Linked DNA regions of Homo sapiens: regions 2 and 3 are each linked to region 1. The links come from fine-mapping of genetic effects on gene expression. A gene starts in region 1. Each other region holds a variant in brackets. All regions are shown on one strand. Distances are between the middles of the regions.

The links. PIP is the estimated chance that this variant, and not a neighbour inherited with it, causes the effect. A credible set is the group of variants that fine-mapping cannot tell apart.
Region 2: its variant is the best candidate, but not a certain one, in a credible set for the expression of RAB30-DT in subcutaneous fat (GTEx, PIP 0.63).
Region 3: its variant is the best candidate, but not a certain one, in a credible set for the expression of RAB30-DT in whole blood (INTERVAL, PIP 0.57).

The regions. Positions count from the first base shown.
Region 1 is chr11:83,069,952-83,074,197 of GRCh38, reverse strand. It overlaps RAB30-DT (RAB30 divergent transcript), which reads right to left and starts at 2,132. Exons shown (of 3, transcript NR_038903.1): 1 at 2,052-2,132; 2 at 1,394-1,575; 3 at 486-895. It overlaps RAB30 (RAB30, member RAS oncogene family), which reads left to right and starts at 2,301. Exons shown (of 5, transcript NM_001286060.2): 1 at 2,301-2,507. It overlaps LINC02951 (long intergenic non-protein coding RNA 2951), which reads left to right. Exons shown (of 3, transcript NR_186233.1): 3 at 1,502-1,796. RefSeq lists enhancers at 1,859-2,348, 4,112-4,246.
Region 2 is chr11:83,235,328-83,239,573 of GRCh38, reverse strand. It overlaps ANKRD42 (ankyrin repeat domain 42), which reads right to left. Exons shown (of 11, transcript NM_001300975.2): 8 at 3,065-3,170. Among named protein-coding and RNA genes, the nearest start is that of ANKRD42, 44 kb to the right of the region's middle. The variant A/T (reference allele first, on the strand shown) is at 1,995.
Region 3 is chr11:82,977,361-82,981,606 of GRCh38, reverse strand. It overlaps RAB30 (RAB30, member RAS oncogene family), which reads left to right. Exons shown (of 5, transcript NM_001286060.2): 5 at 1-4,246. Among named protein-coding and RNA genes, the nearest start is that of SNORA70E, 62 kb to the left of the region's middle. The variant CAG/G (reference allele first, on the strand shown) is at 2,084.

The DNA.
Region 1 (4,246 bases):
TTAAAAACAGACATAGTCTCACTGTTGTCCAGATTGGAGTACAGTGACACAATCATAGCTCACTGCAGCCTCAAACTAATGGGATCAAGTGATCCTCCTGCCTCAGCCTCCCAAGTAGCTAAGCCTACTGGCATGCACTACTATGCCCAGCTCACACAGAAGGTTTCTGAGTAATCTGTTGCTCTTTTTCCCTACAATTTGTCTTCCATATAACTCAAACTGACAAGGCTATGGCTTACATAAAGAAATATATTATAAATCAACAACACTCATGATAAGTTTACATAAGACATGAGAATACACCTGAATCACCAACCGGGAAAAATGATTGAAGAGCTTGAAATTAAGCCTAAGTGTAAGTCTCTGTTAAGCTTACAACATTACAATAGTTAAATCGAAGGTTAGAAAGAAAATGGTAGACATTGCTCCTTTTCCTGTACTTACCACCATTACTTAGAGAAGTTTCTGAATAACAACAACTTTGAGCCTTTTTCATTGTTGTATTCATGGATGACACCAACACATACTACTTCTGCTTAAAAATCAAACTCATTCATCTTGACTTGTTCCCAGAAACATGACACAGAAGATCATTTTTTGAAAAAGTATTTTTGTAATTACCATCTGCATACACCTGAGAGACTGTTTCTAACATGTTTTGGTCATTTTTAATCATTCTATCTGCCTTTCTTTGTTATAAGGATCTATTTTTAATTTTATTCACTCCTAACATAGAGGGGAAGTGCATACCTTCAATGACGCAAAGTAACTAGTTAATGTTGTTTCAGAATAATATGCAAAAGGGAAGGGAGGAAACAGCACAAAGTATATCATATTTTTACACATCAGACACCTTCAGGAAGAAAGGACATTTCTCATCTTAGTGTGACAGACTCTGAAAAAGAACACACAGCACTGTTTCAGTGACACAAGAAAAAAAGTACAGTTCATTTTGAGATACTGTGCAAAATCACTCAAAAGACAATTAACTTTGGTTTCAGTCACTTAGTTAAAAAAAAAATTTATCCATGACCGATGTTACTCTGGAATCTATTGCCAGACGTCAGAAGGCCTATCATCAATAATATCCCACCCCTCCCGCCTTTTCTGAGACACGGGCTTGCTGTCGCCCAGGCTGGAGCACAGTGGTAGGATCGAGGCTCACTGCAGCCTCAACATCCCGGGCTCAAGCGATCCTCCCACCTCAGCCTCTAGTGTAGCTGCAACTACAGGGGTACACCACCATGCCCAGCTAATTTTTTTGTTTAATGTTTTTGTAGAGACGGTACGGGGTCTCCGCATGTTGCCCAGGCTGGGGTTGAACTCCTAGAATCACGCTATCTCCCCGCGTCTGCCCCCAAAGTGCTGGGATTAAAGGCGTGAGCGACCGCACCTGGCCAATATCCCCTTTGAACATCTGCTTTCGCTGGTTGGTAAAAAAGTGTCATTTTAAATTTAGTGTTACTCCTTCAGGCTATTCCCTCTCTCTTCTTACTTGCAGGGCCAAAGCAACGTCTCTTTCCACCTTGGTCACCTTCCAACAACGATTTCTTCGGACGCCTTTGTTAATCATTCCTGTATGAAAAATCAGTGAATCTGAAGCTTTGGGGAGAGTGAAAGGGGGTTGGAAAACAAACGGCAAAACAAAAATGCATTTCGGAGGACTACCCCAACTCTGTGGGTGGAAGTGGGCTTCTCCGAATAAAGGCGAGGGTCGCCGCCTCGGGTCCTCGCACCTCAACAAAAGACACCAACTCTCTCAACTGTACTGTTAACAGATCTAAATGATACTCCAAGCCCAAAAGTAAACCGACTCTCTCAATCTCTTAGCTAAAAAATGGAGAAGGAAGCGTAGGGCCCCATGCAACCCCTTCAGGAGCTGAGACCGAGGCTCACTGGGCCTCTGGATGCCGCTTCCAGTCGGTCCCGCCCTACATCAGTCCCCAGCATGGCCTCCACCCTCTGGTTCCCAGGTTCGTGCCCGCGGCTATCCGACCAGATCGTCCTCCACCTCACCGTCCCCACTGAACCACCACTTGACTCCTGCGCACCCCTAAAACCTCTGCCCGGCTCCGCGGAATCGTCCCAGTACTCCTAACATGGCGGCCGAGTCCCCTTTGCTCCTTCACTCTGGGCGCGTCCCACTTGGAGCATTTTGGGCATTGTAGTTTCGGGGATTGCCTGGGTATCCCTTCAGGACGTAAGAAGACTACAGTTCCCAGAAAGCACCGCTCCCGAGCATGGCTATTGGGGACGTTTGGACAGAGGGATGATGTCATTGCAAAAGCCCCACTGCATTCATTGTGCTACGGTCTCTCCACCCCCTGCTGCTGCTGGGCTTGCGATTGCCGCTCGCTCCAGCTGAGCTAAGTGTAGCAGCAGCACCAGGGCAGGGACTGACTCCAGCCCTTGGACTCAGGACATCGCAGACCTTCCCTTGCGTGCGTGACTCATTCGCACATCCATTTCTGTTTATGCCTGGGGTGGGGAGAAAAATCCCAAACCAGGTGAGTTGAAGTGATTTATTCAAATGCTTCTACCAAGTTATTCCTCCCGCTTAGTTCTCAAGGCTTTCTTTTGGGAAGCTGTGAGCGGTGGGGAGGTGGGGGGGATTGGGGAGAGGCTTGCAGGCACAGCTAAGGGGAAAAGCTCTGTGCCATTTGGGTCACTGCAAAGAACAACTCCAGCAACCTTCCCCCGCCAGAGGACGGGTGCCTGCCAATTCCCTAGTCGCAACTCCTCTCAACCTTTTTGAGGCGGAGAGAGGGGGCTGGGCTGGGAAGGATGTTGGGGAGTGCTCTTGGAAAATCTGAGGAAGGCAGAGGTGGGGGACTGCAGTCCTGTCACACACGGCCCGAGAGCTGAGGTTTGAGTGGGAAGGGGTGATGCGTGGGGAGAAATGGAGACAGTGAATTAATGTGGTCGCACTACTTTAGAACATTTGAATGTCGCTTGGACGAGCACTAGTTATTAATTTTTAAGATGAACGTGCTTAAGTTTTGTAGGGCTTTATTTTATGTGTGTATGTCTATGTGGTTTGTCTCGCCTTTTCTGCTGATTTGAGGTGACAGTGTCCTTTAATGGTGCACTCCGTGCCAGTCAGAAACATTTCACGTGTCTGGCGAAGGTTCTTTCAGGCTGCTGGAAGCAGCGTTTTTGTTAAATGTTTTCCGTTCTCCGACTGCTGGATTCAAGATTGTTTGGAAGTGGAGCCGACAGATTTGTGCTTGTGTGTTTTAAATTACATTGCATAGGCTCTTTGCCACTGACAATGGTACCATAATGAGCTGCTGTTTCCTGAGGCATAGTCACTACTCACAAATAACGGTTTGAAGAGATCGATTAGGGAAGAGGGGTTCATTTTAACACATTAGAGAAAGGGAAAGTTAGAAGCGCTGTTAACCTTCATTTGCCATTACTGAAAGGTGCCCATGGAAGAGTGATTTTGGTTGTTTTGTTATTGTTGTTTTTTTAAACGAACTGACATTTAACAGGAGAGAAAGCATTCTGACTTACATGATGCTCTTGTAAGAGTTATAGGGATAATTAGGGCAATAGATATGTTACTTTGAGATAAACAGCTGGCTGGCTCCACAACAGATGGGGCCAGTCTTGGCTGAGAGATCTACACCCTTGGAAATGAATGGGCCTGGGGTCAACCACACCCCCTCTTGGAATGTCAAAAGAAGGAGAAATGCCAGAGTATTTGCTTAACTCTAGAATGCTAAACCTTTTCCTAGCTGAGTCAGACATGGGCGAAATTCTTTACTGGCTGTCTTCTGCTGCTAAGCCAATTTTGTTCATTTTAAATTCAGATCCTTAGGTCTCCAAAGTTGTAGCTGTGTGATATTTCATTAAATGCTGCTTGATGCTGAATGCAAAGGACAGTCCATTGTATGGGCTTTGTAGTAGAGTGATTTATTGGGATGCCAATGAGCAGCTTTTGGATTTGGGAAAAGATCAACAGTTAGCCTTTGCCTCTGCGTCTCTCTGTTGATGACGCTCTGCTCTTCTGGACACCCTACCCTTCTCTCCTGTACTTTCATTTCTTCCCCCCACCCCACCCCATCCCACCCACATCTCTTGAAATTCTGTTTATTTCTCTATCTCTCCATTTGCAGTTTACATTTTTCCTTTCTGTTTCAAAACCCCTCCTTTATCACCAGCATATCACATCTCTTTCTCTTCAATCTTAGAACACACTCCCTGGTCCTCCACTTCAACTAGGAACTCCTGGGTGGATGTA
Region 2 (4,246 bases), 170 kb before region 1:
TCATATACAAAAATTAACTCAAAATGATCACAGACCTCAATATAAAAGCTAACACTAACTTCTAAAAGAAAACATAAAAGAAAATTTTTATGACTTTGTGTTAATCAGACTTCTTTAGATATGACACCAAAATCATAATACATAAAAGGATAAATTAGTAAGAAATTTTGCTCTTCAAAGACATTAAGAGAATGAAAAAACGAGATACAACCGGTAAAAAAGGGAAATCTTTGCAAAGTATATATCTGAAAAAGAACTAGTATCCAGAATATACAAAGAACCTTTAAAACTCAACATCAAGAAAACAATTCAATTTTTTAAAGTGGGCAAAAGATCTGAATAATCACTTCATCAAAGAAAATATACAGATGGCAAGTATGTATATTTAAAAGATGCTCAAAATCATTTTTCATTAGAAAATGCAAATTAAAACCACAGTGAGCTACCACTACATACCTATTTCATTACTAGAATTAAAAAAAGACCCTGACAATACCAAATGATGGTGAGAATGTAGAACAACAGAAATTGACATCCATTGCTGACAGAAATGCAAAATTTTTTTTTTTGAGGGTCTAGCTCAGTCGCCTAGGTTGGAGTGCTGTGGTGCGATCTAGGCTCACCACAACCTCTGCCTACCAGCTTCAAGCAATTCTCCTGCCTCAGCCTCCCAAGTAGTAGCTGGGACTACAGGTGCACGCCACCACACCAGGCTAATTTTTTGAATTTTTTTTTTTTTTTCGGAGACAGAGTTTCGCTCTTGTTGCCCAGACTGGAGTGCAATGGTACAATCTCGGCTCACAGCAACCTCCACCTCCCAGGTTCAAGGAATTCTCCTGCCTCAACCTCCTGAGTAGCTGGGATTACAGGCAAGCACCACCATGCTTGGCTAATTTTGTATTTTTAGTAGACACAGGGTTTCTCCATGTTGGTCAGCCTGATCTCAAACTCCTGACCTCAGGTGATCCGCCCGCCTCGGCCTCCCAAAGTGCTGGGATTACAGGCATGAGCCACCATGCCCGGCCTGAACTTTTCCTTTTTAGTAGAGACAGGGTTTCACCATGTTGGCCAGACTGGTCTCGAACTCTTCACCTCAAGTGATCCACTGCCTTGGCCTCCCAAAATGCTGGGATTACAGGTGTGAGCCACTGCACCCAGCCCCTAGAAATGCAAATCTGTATGGCCACTTTGGAAGGCACTTCGGCAGTTTCTTATAAAGTTAAACATACACTTGGCATATGGCCCAACAATCCTACTCATAGACTTACCAAAGAATTGAAAACATGTTAACACAAAAACCTGTATAGTAATGTTTACAGCAGCTTTATTCATAACCACCAAAAAATGATACAATCAAGATGCCCTTCAACCTGTGAGTGGATAATCGAATTATGGAATGCTATGGAATTCTACTCAGCTGTTAGAAGAAAATGAACTACAATCAAGATGTCCTTCAACCTGTGAGTGGATAATTGAATTATGGAATACTATGGAATTCTACTCAGCTGTAAGAAGGAAATGAACAGCTAATACACACAGATGAATCTCAAAATAATTACGTTGAGTGAAAGAAGCCAGACATAAATATATATTGTATGATTCCATTTATATAAAACTCTAGAAAATGCAAACCAATCTACAGTGACAGGAAGCAGATCAGCGTTTACTTGGGCACACTGGGGAGCAGTCAAAGGGAGAGAGGTTATAAAGTGGCAGGAGACTTTGACGGTGATGAATATGTTCACTATCTTAATTGTGGCAATGGTTTCACAGGATACGCATACATCAAAACTCATCAGTTGTACCGTACAAATATATGCATTTTATTGTGTGTCAATTATACCTTGATAAAGCCATTTTAAACCAATAAAATAGACTTGAGCTGACAATGATCCCAGGTACATGGTACAACAAAACCACACTCCAAGTCATCAAAGAAATTCCATAAACAAAATTTTAGGGAACATGAGCTCACAAACAAAAGTTGCATGGCA[A/T]CTTAGCAAATGATTGGACCAGAGCATACTGTCAAGACTCATCTGCCATTGTTAGCCCACACTCCTAGTTTAGATTCCAGCCTTCTAATCCACATGCAGTTCTTCAAACATATAAGGTGTTGTCTTACAACTCCTCCTTACATTTACACTTACGCTTACAAGTGTCAACAGAAATGTTGCTTCCTCAAAAGAAAAGTTTTTTCTTTCACCTCTATCTAAATTCTGTCCCCATGCAGTTTCCTTCATAACTTTTACCTTCCTCTGTATTAAAGTTTCTCCCTTACAACTTTCAAACAGAAAGATTTTTTTCTATATTCTTAGTGTACCTTACACATACCATGTAATACAGTATAATGATTAGAATTAATAAGAATTTTATTTGCATATTTGTCTCTCCACAATACTGTAAACTCCTTGAGGGCGGTGACTGTGTTTTCTCCCCTTTGTATTTCTACCACTAATCACAGAACTTGGAACATGGTAAGTATACGGGAAGCTGAATGAAAGAACAACCAAACGAACAAATAGATGGAGTAAATATTTCTTGAGAACCTAACCTGAATGAGCTGGCTAGGTTTAAAAATACATGCTATATTTAATTCGGATGTAAATTGCAAAATATGTTTCAAAATCCAAGTCACTTATTTTTCTATTATTAATGTTGACTATTTATTTTTATCACACAGCATTTCTTAACAGGGAATGCTACAGGCATTTGGATGGGACAAATCATGAATTACTGTTCTGAGCACTGCAGAACATTTAGCATTCCCAGACCGGACCTCCAGTTGGTGAAGGTCTCTGGTCATTGTGACAACCTTCCCCAACATTTCCAAAGACCCCTCCCATGAGGAAACGGGAAAATATTACCTCCCAGTGGAGAATTACTGCTTGAAAAAGAAAAGCTGATATAATGGCAGCTGTCAATTCAGCTTGAAAATTGTCATTCCATCTGTATTTGATTGAGTCCTCTAAAATTCCATTAAAACTTCAGAGATTTTTGAGTCCAAAAAAGTATACGCAAAACTTTAAAGAGAAAAGAAAGGAGTAAAGAAGACAGAGATTTATACCTCTTTGCCACATCACTGGGTCTCTCCCCTGCTTTGTTGGTAATATTACTGTCTGCTCCCATTTTAATTAACCACTGCAAACACTCTATGTGGCCTTGTCCAGCAGCTGTTCAAAAAAAGGAAAAAGAACAGGAATTACACACAAAAAAGTTAGTTATTAGTAACAATTTTCTAAAATTTTGGACAGTACCATTATAGAGTACTTAGTTAAGTATTGATCCTTGCAGTAACTGGCAAAAGTACATTGGGCAAATATTATTTTCTCTATTTCACTTACTGATTCATTAGACAAACATTTAATCAACTGTGCTCAGGCCCCACACAGATAATTTTACACACGGATATAAAAGCTGAAACTCAAAAAGGTTATTTATGTATTTATTTAAAATCACACAGCTAGTAAAAAGTAGTTTGAAACTAGAATCCAGGCTTTTCTAATACTATCCAGTGCTTATCTCCTGCTATAAATAGCTCCTAACCAATCTTGTATTTCACAAGAATGTGAGCACATTCTAACCATAAGGACCTACACAGACTTCAAAAAGTCTTGCTTCAGCATATATTTATATGATAGATGTATGATATATATGTATTCTTCTGATTCTTACAACTCAAAATTTATAGGCCTGTAAAGCCACACTTAATTACCTAAACTGTTTACCACCTTTGTCCAAATCTTCACCTCATAACACATGCTGTCTTTATTTTCACCTTCACAACTCTGCTTATGTGTCTTCCCACCTAAAGCCAATCACTCAACAATGTGCTCATTTAACCTGTAACTATTCTTCTTCATCCATCTTGAAACTCAAGGAAGCTGAAGAAAACAAACTGAATAGACTTAAAAGAAAGACTTGAGTTTAGGTCTATTAAACAATAAGATGTGAGGACAGGGCTATAATCTTCATATCCTCAGACGACAGCAAGTGGCTGCAACTTACAGACCCTCAACCAATGTCTAAAGAGTTGATGAGTGAATGAATACTTTTAAAAAATGCAATCTTAGCTCTGCTCTTACTAGCTATATATCTAACCTCAGTCAAGCCACCTGACTTCTCTAAACATCAATTTCCTCATCTTTAACATAGACGATTGTTTTATAAGCAAAGCACACTGCTGCTTTATAAAACTGCAATAAGTATTAAATGTGATAAGAGCTTTTCACTCTACTAAGTAGTATAT
Region 3 (4,246 bases), 93 kb after region 1:
CTTTACCCATGACCAACAGTAACAATCATTGTTTTAATAATATATACAAGCTCCATAACTCCTTTTGGTGCTAATGATTCCGCTATTTCACAGACCAAACGTTTTAGTACATTAATGTCCTTAAATGTGTTATATAGAAATAAAAAAATGGGGGAAGTCCATGAATCAGCACTCTTTCTCAAAGTCTCATTACTACCTTTTTAAAGGTGGATTTTTGGGAAAAGAGAATACTTTTCCTTTTATGTTCCCCTCTGAATCTCTACCACTTTCTTGTCTCTCCAGCCCTTTATGTAAATGAAAACGTTTGCAAAATGAAAAAAATAAACAAATGGTTGATGACATTCTAATATAAAAACTTAGCTCTAACACATTTTGAGTAGTATGAGGAAACAGACCAGATATGACCAAAATACTGTGGATTAATGGACTGTAGTGCAGGGCTCCTAGCAGAGCACAGTCCTTGATAGTAGGTCACATCTTTTACTTCCTGGTACTCTCCATCTTGGACAGACCAAGGCTTAGGATTTTGTAGATTTTTTAGTATGATAAGTGAGAATAGCAACAGATGAAAAGTCTCACGACCCATTTTTATATCTTCGATGATAACCTTAGAAAAATTCTGCTCGTGGAAGCAGATTGAACTGTCATTTATCCCCTCCTTCTTGTAATAATGTTACCTTCAGACGCTTAACCATATGTTCTTTCTTTTTTCTTTCTCTTTTCCTCTCTATTTTTCTGGTCTCTCCTTTTCTTCTTCCCTCCCTCCCTCCCTCCTTCCCTCCCATCCTTATATGCCTGTGTTACTGCAAATCTCCAATTCAAATGGAGGTGTATATGCCTTTACTTAGCCAATTTAAAAACAGGACTCAAAATGGGAGATGTGCTGCTGAATATGTGTTTCTTTTTCTTCAGTGCCATACTTTGATAGCTTCCAATTTGTTCACTGATATAAATGCAAATTGGGAAAATAATTAAACCTGTATGCTGTTGATGCTGTCAGATGTTTCTGTAGCTTGCTGCTTAGCATAACTGAGGGATGAGTAATGGAATAAGGATATGATGTGTAATTCCACTGTTGCTGTAGATGGTGACAATCTCAGTTCTGATATGTTGATGTTTGAAAGCTATTTAATTGTAAAGAAATTAGTCATGTAGAGACATGATGTGGATAAAGCATTTCTGGCATTTCTCTAGCAGGTTCTAGATTGACCAGTGTCTTGCACATGAGATTATGCATATTTTTTAAGGGGCTGATACTTTTGGTTGGCCTCACTGTGTTTTTCCTGATCCTGTGGGAAAGAGAAAGGCATCCCAGAAGTTTGACTTGTTTTTCTTTTAGAATCTGTCTCTGCAGGAAAGAAAAGTCATTTTAATAAAAACCAAAATAATTTATAATAATTGTTGCCTTTCCCTCCCCATCCTCTCCACTAAGCCAGCAACTAAATGTATTCAGAAAACAAGTTAATCAAGGAGGGCAGAAGAATTTTTTTTAAACTGTAAGAAAATGTTCCTAAGTTTAGATTTATTACCTGTCATTTAGGGCAAAAATCCAGTGTCCCCAGCACATGATGACCCAACTTTGTCTCACAGTTGCAAGTGTGTTGAAAATAAAGTTGCTTTGTGAACTTAGAGGAAATGGCTGTGTTAGATTGGACTGATTTAGTTGCAAAATAATACCTTTTAGGGTCACACTTGTATTATTCCCTAGGGTTTAGCCTTCTCTATATACCCTTGGCCAGACTCAGAAGGGGATTAAAAAGCTCTGGTCTTGGCCTCTATCTTCCTTGTTGCTCCTCCCAGCCTTTCCATAACTTACCCATCCACAGCCCATCAGCAGGAACACATGAGAATGTGGGACTTTGTTTCTTTTTTTCTTAGTTGTATGAATTCCAGATTAGGCCTTATGGATACTTGTCTACTAATATATCTGAAGTTTGAAAACAATCCCTGACAATATTGTAGGTGCAATAAATATTAGTCAAATAAACATTTAAGTGCCAAGGTGGGGTGGTAGTGGTTGGGGGAGCTTTTTTTGATTAAACAGAAATTCCTTCAAGTAGAACTTGAGAAAGGACACTAAATA[CAG/G]TCATCTTAACCCAGGCCAGAACCTAAATTTATTGGTTTGCCTAACAGTCTTATTGTCATGGCAATATTTGCTAAGATGAGCCTTCTTTAGATAAAAATGAACTCTCATTTAGTGGTGGATGAAAAAAGAGAAATTGCTTTATCATATAGTTTAATTTGGCTCGGTCTACTAAGACCACCAGGGTTGATGTATTCCTCCATTTTTGGTGTGATCTTTTTCTTCATTCAATAAAGTTATTAAATATATGGCAAAACTTTTTTCAGTTTCCAGTGAAAATGCATGATACTCATGTCATGGAGTCAGGCTTGGGAAAATCTATGAAATAATAGTTTGCTGATAATGATATTTTCTTATGGCTTTGTATAGACTACATCCTCAAAGGATTTTGTGCTTCTTTGCCCATAGAAGGCTTTTTCTCCCTTTGTGTGCTTTTATTAAATCTGTTGAATTATATTAATATTTTTTGAATTTACAGGGCCAATTATCTTTTTTGATGGATTACTTAGATTAGGCCATGGGTTCTTCCTGGCCTTTCTTTTTCTCGGTCTTTTAATCATTTCACGTTTTTATCTCTCCCTGAGTAAAGTGGCAAGAAAACTAAAAATGAAAGTTAAATGGGTTGATTTGACAATGTGTCAAGTTCTGATTTAGAGTTTATAAGGAAGGTAGAAACGATTGGCCAAAATAAGATATTTGGATGAGGATTATTTAAGCCGTTTAGATTTGGCCAGAGACGCCAGATTTAGCAAAGGACTGGGTTCTTATCTTCTTTCATTCATGAATATATGCCTTGGGAGGACACTGGTGATTCCCACAGAATTAGGCCAATGATTTGCCACATTACCCTTTAAGCTAGCCCATAATTCCACCAGATCCCACACCAAGTTTCAGTTCATGACTCATACTGAATAAACGTCAGTTGTAAATGATGTTTGAATTGGTCTTCCTACTAAAGTGAAACATCTTCTTTTAAGCCAAGCCACATGAATGAAATAGCACAATCAGAAAAAAATCTTTTTTTTTTTTTTTGCATATCAAACCAATGGCCTTCTCCACTAAGCCAGCAACTAAAGGTATTCAGAAAACAAGTTAATCAAGGTGGGCAGAACTTTTTGAACTGTGAGGAAATGTTCCTAAGTTTAGATTTATTACCTGTCATTTAGGGCAAAAATCTAATGTCTTTTTTATTTCTTAATCTTGTAGAACTCTGTATTTCATAGTAATGAGTACTTAGGGATCATTGCTCTATTAGCCTCTGGGAGAGATCTTCTAGAGTTTGCCATTCCTTTTTTTCCAAAATTTTTTGTTGTTGTTGTTGTTGTTTTAACTGCAACTGGTTACTTTTCTCAACCATGGTCCTGACATGTTTATACTATGATACTTTTGAGACTTCGCTAAAGAATTAAAAGCTGTGAAACAACATTTGCTTCTCATCCTTCAGACAAAATGTGTTCCATTTAAGCAGCATGGTTAAACACTAATTTTGGGATAAGGGAGGGATATGTTTTCTTTACTTTCTTTTTGGATTTCATTTCTGTGGCATGAGCCTATTTGCGTTTGGAAGGAAAGATGCCTTCCTTTACATTCTTCACACTGGTAATTTTTTCATACTGAATTAAGAAATTATCATCCCTTCAAAACACATATTAATATAGCAACATTAGAGTAAGGGAGATGGCATTTCATCTCCTCTCCTCAGTCCCTTGATGTTGGAATGTTATTATCATTTCCAGGAGCCATACTTTGAAATTAAAAACAAATTGAGGCATTACCAGTCTGATGAAGGAATTTTAAATGCAAGCCATTTAAAGAATACTTGAAGGATTTGGGGAGACTTAGGTTAGGAAAAAGAGGGGAATACAATTAGTGCATTAGAACAAGATGCTCTGTGGTTCAGAGGGGTGGAATGAGGCCTACTGAATGAGGCCGTAGGGACACAGATTTGGGTTCCATGTCAGGGCGACCATTCTCAAAAAGTTGGTTCACTATGGGACAGTCTGCCTCAGGTAATAGCCTCTGTCAAGAGGCAAAGATGTGGAGAGGATCCAATTGGTTGGAGATTGGAGCAGGTGACCTATTAACCTAAATTCCATGTTGTATGTAGTACTTTGCCTCTCATAACATGTTCAATTAAATATCTGTTAATTCATAGCTAATGAT